Linked DNA regions of Homo sapiens: all the other regions are linked to region 2. Evidence: fine-mapped expression QTL. A gene starts in region 2. Each other region holds a variant in brackets. All regions are shown on one strand. Distances are from middle to middle.

What was found. PIP is the estimated chance that this variant, and not a neighbour inherited with it, causes the effect.
Region 1: its variant is fine-mapped to the expression of SEPTIN7 in whole blood (TOPMed, PIP 0.96).
Region 3: its variant is fine-mapped to the expression of SEPTIN7 in whole blood (INTERVAL, PIP above 0.99).

Annotation. Positions count from the first base shown.
Region 1 is chr7:35,884,635-35,887,400 of GRCh38, forward strand. SEPTIN7 (septin 7) reads left to right here. Exons shown (of 14, transcript NM_001788.6): 10 at 1,194-1,245. Among named protein-coding and RNA genes, the nearest start is that of SEPTIN7, 85 kb to the left of the region's middle. The variant A/G (reference allele first, on the strand shown) is at 1,382.
Region 2 is chr7:35,799,483-35,802,248 of GRCh38, forward strand. It overlaps SEPTIN7 (septin 7), which reads left to right and starts at 1,575. Exons shown (of 14, transcript NM_001788.6): 1 at 1,575-1,788. The coding sequence starts at 1,728. SEPTIN7-DT (SEPTIN7 divergent transcript) reads right to left here and starts at 1,143. Exons shown (of 5, transcript NR_120512.1): 1 at 1,008-1,143. RefSeq lists enhancers at 807-866, 989-1,612, 1,227-1,616 and silencers at 1,767-2,006, 2,037-2,486.
Region 3 is chr7:35,901,692-35,904,457 of GRCh38, forward strand. SEPTIN7 (septin 7) reads left to right here. Exons shown (of 14, transcript NM_001788.6): 13 at 1,385-1,524; 14 at 2,563-2,766. The coding sequence ends at 2,602. Among named protein-coding and RNA genes, the nearest start is that of SEPTIN7, 100 kb to the left of the region's middle. The variant C/T (reference allele first, on the strand shown) is at 1,462.

The DNA of each region.
Region 1 (2,766 bases), 85 kb after region 2:
TGGACCCTCAAGAATGATTGAAGAAATTTGTAAGCCCAGTTAAAACATCCACAGTCTTCTTTCCTCAGTGCAAAAGTTGCCCTTTTTGATATCTCATATTTAGAGTAAAAAAATTTCGTTAATAAGAGATCCTCTTTACTAGTTTTGTAAGGAGTTTTTTGTTTTCTTTTTTAACCTGCTATCTTAAATTATTAAGGGTTAAGTAAGGAGTTTTAAATACCAATAAAATCTTAGTTATAACACCAAGCCTCAGAAGTACTTCCTCTTGGCAATAGGTTTATTGTATTGGTTTAATCTGATACTTAATCTTCTGTATTATAGTAAGCTGAAACCAAAATTGAGATTTGATTGTTTTATCTGTTTGTTGCTATTATTTTTGAACTTCGTTTTTTTTTTTAAGAGACAAGGTCTTGCTATGTTGCCCAACTGGCCTCAGAATCCTGAGCTCAAAGTGATCCTCCCACATCATGCTCCTCCCACATCACGTCACTATAAGCACACACCACTGCCCCTGGTTTATTTTGAACAATTCTTTAATTTTTAGGATATTGTTTCAGGTAACTGTCCTTATTGGCAATTTTCCCATCAGTGACCTGTGTACCTTGTTCCCAGCTCTCTCTATCATGCCCAGGCAACTTTTACTTGCTGAGCTGGGGCTTTAGAACTTACCCCTTAAAAATACGCACCGGAGAAATTGATTTGCATCTCTCTTTTGTAGTTTACCCCTCTACTCCCAAGTAATATTCCTATTTGTGATACATTCTTTAAAAATAAAAGTAAAGAACCTGAAAGTTCTTGGCTCCCTTTTTCATTTTGGTTACCTTAAGATTTTTTCTAAAGTGATTCTCCCTTCACTCACACCACTGAATTTTTTAAATGTATTATAGAATAAATATATTTTTTACCAATAATAAGATTTCCCCTTTCAGAATTTCAAAGTTGTTTCTGGAGAGTTCATTTGTTAGGTTTACATATCTATTTCTGAGGATTAAACTACAATAAGGCAATAATAGAGTACACTTCTCTGTCATGCCCTCACATTGAGTGTACTATGTTAGTGTTAAATCTCAAAAAAATTGATCTGTTTTGCATTTCCTCTTCTTGTTTTTACACCCCAAGTTCCTGTGAAATATTTTTTGAAAAGACTAGGTTTAGTGGAAATATAACATATGCGGTCTGCTTTTTTCTTACAGTTGAAAATGGTGAACATTGTGATTTTACAATCCTAAGAAATATGTTGATAAGGTAAGTGCAAGCAATGATGGAAATAGCATAAGATTTTCTTTCCCTAAGTAAGAGTTGGACAGATTTACTTTTTGCCTTCTATAAATGTAGCTAATTTAAATTTATATCTTCAGTCTAGCCATGAAGTAAACACTAC[A/G]TATAGATGATTCTTTCTCCAAGGTTTTGAAGTCATGAGCAAAAGTTGCAAAGTAATTTGTCTAGGGATACATAGGAAAATTAGTCTCTTTATCATTATACTTTGTGTCGAGATTTAATACTGAAATAACTATGGAAAGTGAAGTAGAAGAGGCTCTTTTTTCTTAATGTGAAAACCTTGTGAAAACTATATAAGAGAAGGCTAGTTTTTGAGTCCAAAGCTAGAATTTGAATGTTAAAAGGTGCACAGCCTGGTAGCTGGTGAGTAGGGCACATTTTATGTACTGGAACATAGTGAATAAAACCAGTATTCCTACCAGGTGAGAAATCCCTAAATTGTGTCTTACACACCTGCTGAAAGAGAAGGAAAGCCTATGGGAGCAGGACATCGAGGCCATCCTGATTAGAGGACCAGGACTGTAAAGAGGATCTCTTACTAATGAATTAGAAAAGCAGCAGCAGAGAGGAAATCATGAAGAAAAAGTGTAATAGGACTAGAGATGTTAGTAGACAAGGAACAGAAAGGGCATCAAAATGATCCTCAGTATTTTCATGTTGAGACACATTCATTCCCCTCCCTACCTGACTCCGCATTTCCCACTTTTCTCTCTTGCTTCTCTACACCTTTACCACATACTCTCTTTAACCTTCAGTTTTAGATGTCTGTCTTTAGTTGATATCTATTAATTTTCATACCTCTACCCACTTTCCCAAAACATAAGAATCTCTTTTGCTGTGTAAAGAAAGGTAGTTACATAAATATGGATAATAGTTGGAAATCATGGAATAACAAGAGGTCATTCTCAAGGTGAGAAGTGAGGGGGAAAATTTAAGACAGTCAAACTGCTACCTCAAGAAATACAATAGAGGTGAGAGTGAATTTTGAAATTAAATAAATGGCATGTAATTGATCTTTATTTTCAAAGGAGCAGGTGTTCTTGGTAGGAACTACATGATAGGTTTAATTCAGCAGTTGAGGTTGCCAGGCCTCACTTAGTGGAGAAGAGCAAAAGCACGAGAAGGTCATCTTCTGGGTTTTGAGAATACAACACTTCAGGCTCTATTATGAACCATTCCCTTCCTCTTCCATTCTTAAGGTGTGACTTCAAAAGAATACATATTAATAATATAATCTGCTATGACAGTATATAAGTAGAGAATGTTTAATAAATACTAATTTACCATTGCATTCCTCTTGTTTTTAAATCTTCTATGGTACTTGCCTAGTGCTTGACACAATGGCATTCTATAACTTTTTCTTGTGTATTTTAAAAGTATACAATCAATAATTTCCTACATACCTAAAACACTGTAGAGGGGAAAGCTAGTTACTGAGCCAGAGGCTACTTTGTTGAGATGGAGTCTCACTTTCTTGCCCAGGCTGGA
Region 2 (2,766 bases):
ATATAGAACAGTAAAGGAAATAATTACAAGTGAACACCCATGTGCCCTCTACTTAGCTTAATGTTTTGCCACATTTTCAAGATATTTCTGGTAGAAAACAAACGTTATAGATACAAATGAACCCTTCTTGTTACATTCCCTTCTGTTCATCTCTGGAAGCAACCAGTATTCTGAATTTGGTATCTATCATTTCCTTATACAATTTTTAGTTTGATCTTACTTTTTTGTAATTATTAAACTTTTATTTATGGTATGTCATATATATCTTTCCGCAACCTGTCTTTTCATTTCTTCCTCAATATTAGGTTAATGACTCTATCCATATGAAAAATGGTAGCTTTAGTTCACTGATTTTTTGGTTCGTGTTGTATGTCAATTTGTTCAACAATGACACTTATTCATCCATTCTCCTATTAGTAGACATTTATTGTTTCACTAATATAAGCTATTTTGCTCTGAACTTTCTTGCACGTGCCTATAACTTAAAAATACACATACTTTTTTAAAACATGCAGTTAAACAGGAACATACACATTTCTTTAACATGTAGTTAAACAGGAAAAGTAACACATGTGCATGAAGAATACAACCAAGAGAGCCATCACGTTCAAGAAAAGACCACAGGTTATTCCGAGTGAAGTAAGGCTTTCACTAGAAGGCACTTGGGGAACGTTCCAATGACAGCGACATTCATCGCTACAGTAGAAACTCACACAATCGCAGCCCTTTATTAGTATTTTGTTACCCAGTAGTTCCTGTGTCCATTCATTTCCTCAACTGGAGTGTGAGCTCCAAGAGGACCGAACCGGGCACCGACAAGGTGAGCCAATATGAATGTGGCGAGTCCGCAATGGGGGCTACAGCGGCCGACCTCTGGGGCTGTGCCAGGCCACTAGAGTGTGATGGCGCGAGGGAAGGGTCGGGGAAACAGGGCCTAACCTCACTTTTCACCCCGAAAGTCAAGATAGCCACGGAAACAGGGATGAATGGGGAGCACAGACACCTGCCTCGAAGTGTCTCTTCACTTTCACTCACAAAGCCGTCGGGTCAGTAACCAGAAGCCGAGGGGCGGATGCGGCCCCCGCCCTGTGGCACTTTCTCAGTCTGGTTCTTCCAGCCGCGCCTCTTTGCCTTACGCCAATTCCGTAAGGAGGCGCTGAGGCCAACTGGCCGGCTCCCGCAGCTCCAAAACTTGACGTGAAATTGCGCGGGGCAGAGCTGACTGCGGCCATCTTTAATTCGGGCAAGACCCCACCCTCGCACCCCACCCACTAGTCCTTTTCAGCGTTCCCAGGATTTTCTCCAACAAATGTAACGCGGTTAACCTTAGAAGCAGTGTTGAAGAAACACGCAAAGAGGCCTGAGTATCCATGACCTCAGTGGTGCGAAACCCGGCCAACTTAAACATGGCGGCTAAACCCGAACAGCAAAACGTTGCTGACGCCAATGAAGTCATGCTCGAAATGGAGCGAGGCGGCGGAGCTGGGGAGGCGGTAATCTCGCGAGATGGAAGCCAGCCTCCGCTAGGCCCGGAAGCCTCGTCTGAGGGGGCGGGGGACGGAGGAGGGAGCGGGAGTCGAGCGAGAGCCTGTGGAGGAGTCCGCCTGCTGTAGCGTGCGTAAGCAAGGCAGCTACGCCGGGCGGCTACGCTGCGGAATCGGCGTAGGCGCCTTTGGAGAATCGGCGGGCTGCGCTCCGCTGGGGCTGGTCGCGGAGGGGGGGAGGGGATGTCGGTCAGTGCGAGATCCGCTGCTGCTGAGGAGAGGAGCGTCAACAGCAGCACCATGGGTGAGTCTCAGCTTCGGGTGCCGCGACTTGGGGTCAGCGGCTCCGAATGCCGGGAAGCTCTGCGGCCGCTGGACCGAGCTAGGGAACGCCCTGAGGCGAGGCGGAGGCAGCGGCGAGGGGAGCCGGGATGGGGGCCACTGCGGGCCCGGGGCGCGGCAGCGGCGGGCTCGGGGGGAGGGGAGGCGGCGGCGGTGACAGTTTGAATTGAACGTGAGGAGAGCCGAGGCGGCGGCATTTCCTGTGCCGCGGCGGGCTGGCCCCCGGCGCAGAGCCGCGGCCTCCGCGGCCGGAGCAGCCTGAGCGTGGTGGTCTCAGCCCTGCCCTTGCTTCTCTCCGTCCCTTCGCCTTTCCTCAGTCTCCTCCCGGGCCCGCCGGCTTCCGCGGCCCCGCTTCCTCCTGTCCCCGGCCGCATCCCCGTCGGCAGAAGTCCCCTCGTGGGGCAGTGGGCCTGGCTAGGAGGGTGGGGACGAGTGTGAACGCTCGGGCGAGGGTGCTGTGTGGGCCAACCCGGGCGGGCGGCGGCGGGGAGGGAGGAAGAAGGATGCACCAGGCTGAGGCTGTGGTGGAGGCGGCGGCGGCGGCTGCAGCCGCAGCTCCAGTCACCGCGTCGCCTCCCCGCTCCTCCTCCCGCCTCTCGGGGTTGCCTCTCTCCAGGCGCAGCCCGGAAGGCCGGTGGATGGCGGGCGAGTCTTGAGAACGGAGGGAGAATCGGTAGTTTGGTTTGGAATTTGGGCTTAATTTTTAGGAGTAAGGGAAAGAGAACGCCTGGGAAGGGCGCCCCCCGGAGGAGATAGAAAGGGTGGGAAGGGTCCTTGGAAAAGGGAGGGAGCGGAGATGTGGAGTGGCGAAGTTTAGGGAAATTAATTTTTGAAAATATTTCAATATTCTCAGTTATTCTCTTAACGAGCCCTTTCATTTCCTTTCCTCCCCCACATGTTGGAAAAAGAACAGGCCATTTCATTTACATTTTCCACTCCT
Region 3 (2,766 bases), 100 kb after region 2:
ATAGAATGTTATCAACTCATTTGAAGATGCTGTGTGCCTGTCCCCTATTGTATCCCTCTCTCTCATTCCCAGAGGTAACTACTATTCCGAATTGTGTATATGTGACTCTTTTCATTTAAAAAAAATAACTAGAGACATTTTCTTATGTTCCTACTTTCTGACATTTCTTAGTAACTTGTTTGCTGTCATCAGGAAGATATCACCTCAGATTTGATTCATGTTTGCTTAAGTGTGTCTTAGGTGATTTTGTTTTGTAGGAATTGCATGAAATAATTGAAATAGGAATAAATCTGAAGTCACTTCGGGCTTGCAAAAAAAAATTGTATGCAAAATTATAGTAACATATATAATATGTATATAATATATAATACATATAATAGTTATATATTAACATTATGTTAATGTTAACTCACCAGTGTAGTAAAATCTGTAACAGAACATAATTCCTGGATAACTGAAGGTTTTGAATAGTCCTTGGGTATTTGGCATAGAAGGATTTAATCTGATTTTTAAAATTTGTTGACTTTTTTTTTTTTCAGAAATGGATTGACTTGCACCTAAATGAAATTACTTATCTAATGATCTCTTGGACTTAAAGCACTTTGTTTCTGCAGTTACTTCGCATGAGTGTTTACTGCCTCTCAGTCAGCATTCTTTACAGTATTAATACACAGAGAAGGAAGGACCAGCTGCATTAGAATCACTGTAACTTGTTGAAAATCCACATTTCCAGACTTAACACCCAGATATTCTAATTCAGTACGTCTGAGTGAGGTCCAGGATTCTATATTTTTAACAAACATCCCAGGTGATTTGCATGAAGACCAATGTCTGAGAACCACTGCTTACAGGAATCAGAGTACTTTGCTGGCATCTTTGAGCTCTTAGGGTCCTAAACTACCTGCTTTCTTTTCACTTGTCTTAGCTTTCTAAACTTGGAATTAGGAGGCTTATTCAAGTCCTGGTTCTTCCACTTTCTGGCTAGCAATCTTGGGCAAGTCACTTAAATTCTGCAACTGTTTCCTCATCTGTACAATGAGAACAGTGATGTGTTCACTGCCCAGCCTCCAACATATTTGTGATTAAAGAAAAACGAGATAAGATAGTAATTTTCCATTATAAAGTACTCCACACTGTTAAGTTTGTTGCTTTTTTTTTTTTTCCTGTTTCCCAAGATTATTGTCTTGGGTCACTGGCCTTTTGGGTGGCAGGTCCTAAAGGAGGAGGAGTCCTTGACCAGAGTACTTCCAGGTAGTACTCTGAATTTACAACAGGGCTATTCAAATAGTGCTCATACTCCTTATCATTAGGGTGTCTGGATGAAACATACCTCTGCTTCTGATTTCTTAAATAGTTTTGTTTTATATATTGTGCTATGATTTAGCTCCAGCGGCGCCATGAGCAAATGAAAAAGAATTTGGAAGCACAGCACAAAGAATTGGAGGAAAAACGTCGTCAGTT[C/T]GAGGATGAGAAAGCAAACTGGGAAGCTCAACAACGTATTTTAGAACAACAGAACTCTTCAAGGTAACTAATAGCAGATTACTAAGAAATGTGTGTATTAATGTTTTAAAGAATTGTTTTCCTACTTATTTAAAAAACATTAGAATAACACTTAAAAAGTCATCACCCATTATCATGCATTCCAAACACAATGGTTTTCATAGATAAATATTTTTATATGGATGGATACAGTCTGTGTCCATTAGCAGTATTTTTTCAGTACATCTTTCATGACTTAATATTCATAATTATGATTTAGCAACTTCATAACATTCTCCCCAGTTAACTTACCTTCATTGGATTTCTTACCTCCTCCCCCCAGTTGTTGGACATAAGGGTTGTTTTCAATTTTTGGCACACAAAGGGAACATTCTTCAAAATCTATTACATATTTAGGGGTATGTTTTAACTGTTGAATTATGTTTTTACGATAAAATTCTTAAGACAAAATGTTAGATATTTGATTTCCAATACAACTAATCAATTACTTTCTCTTAATTTATACAAAATTCAATAATATTTGTACCTTGGTTTTCTTTTCCTTAATAGTTTCACTTAAAACTGAAAAGTGGCATTCCTATAAGGATTATATAGTTTATCCTCATTACTAAACATTTTCAGATTTGACATTTGTTCTACTACACTACCCTACTGTTAACATTTTCCCCAAAGAAGAGGAAAATAGATTTGTGAAAGCAATTGCACTTCAAAATGCAAATGACAGTGGGGGAAAAAGAATACCCTGTTTGCTGCCAGTTGATACTTTTTAGTTTGTGCTGTTTCATTTGGGAAGAATTGTTCTTGTATATTAAAATGGAGTTTTGCCTTATTTTTTTACTGCTTATCCTGGAGTTTTGTCAAATATTTGATTGTCTAAGAAAATGCTATTATAGATTAACATTGTCTTAGCTGTTTACTTCTAAATCTTTTAATTTTTTTCAGTGAAAAAGTAGTATCTGAAAATCCCAACATTGTTGTAATTGGGTTAGCTGTTGTTATCATGTTGTCTATCATGTTTATAAAATGGTTACTCATCTTGCTTATTTTCCTTTTATCCTTTAGAACCTTGGAAAAGAACAAGAAGAAAGGGAAGATCTTTTAAACTCTCTATTGACCACCAGTTAACGTATTAGTTGCCAATATGCCAGCTTGGACATCAGTGTTTGTTGGATCCGTTTGACCAATTTGCACCAGTTTTATCCATAATGATGGATTTAACAGCATGACAAAAATTATTTTTTTTTTTGTTCTTGATGGAGATTAAGA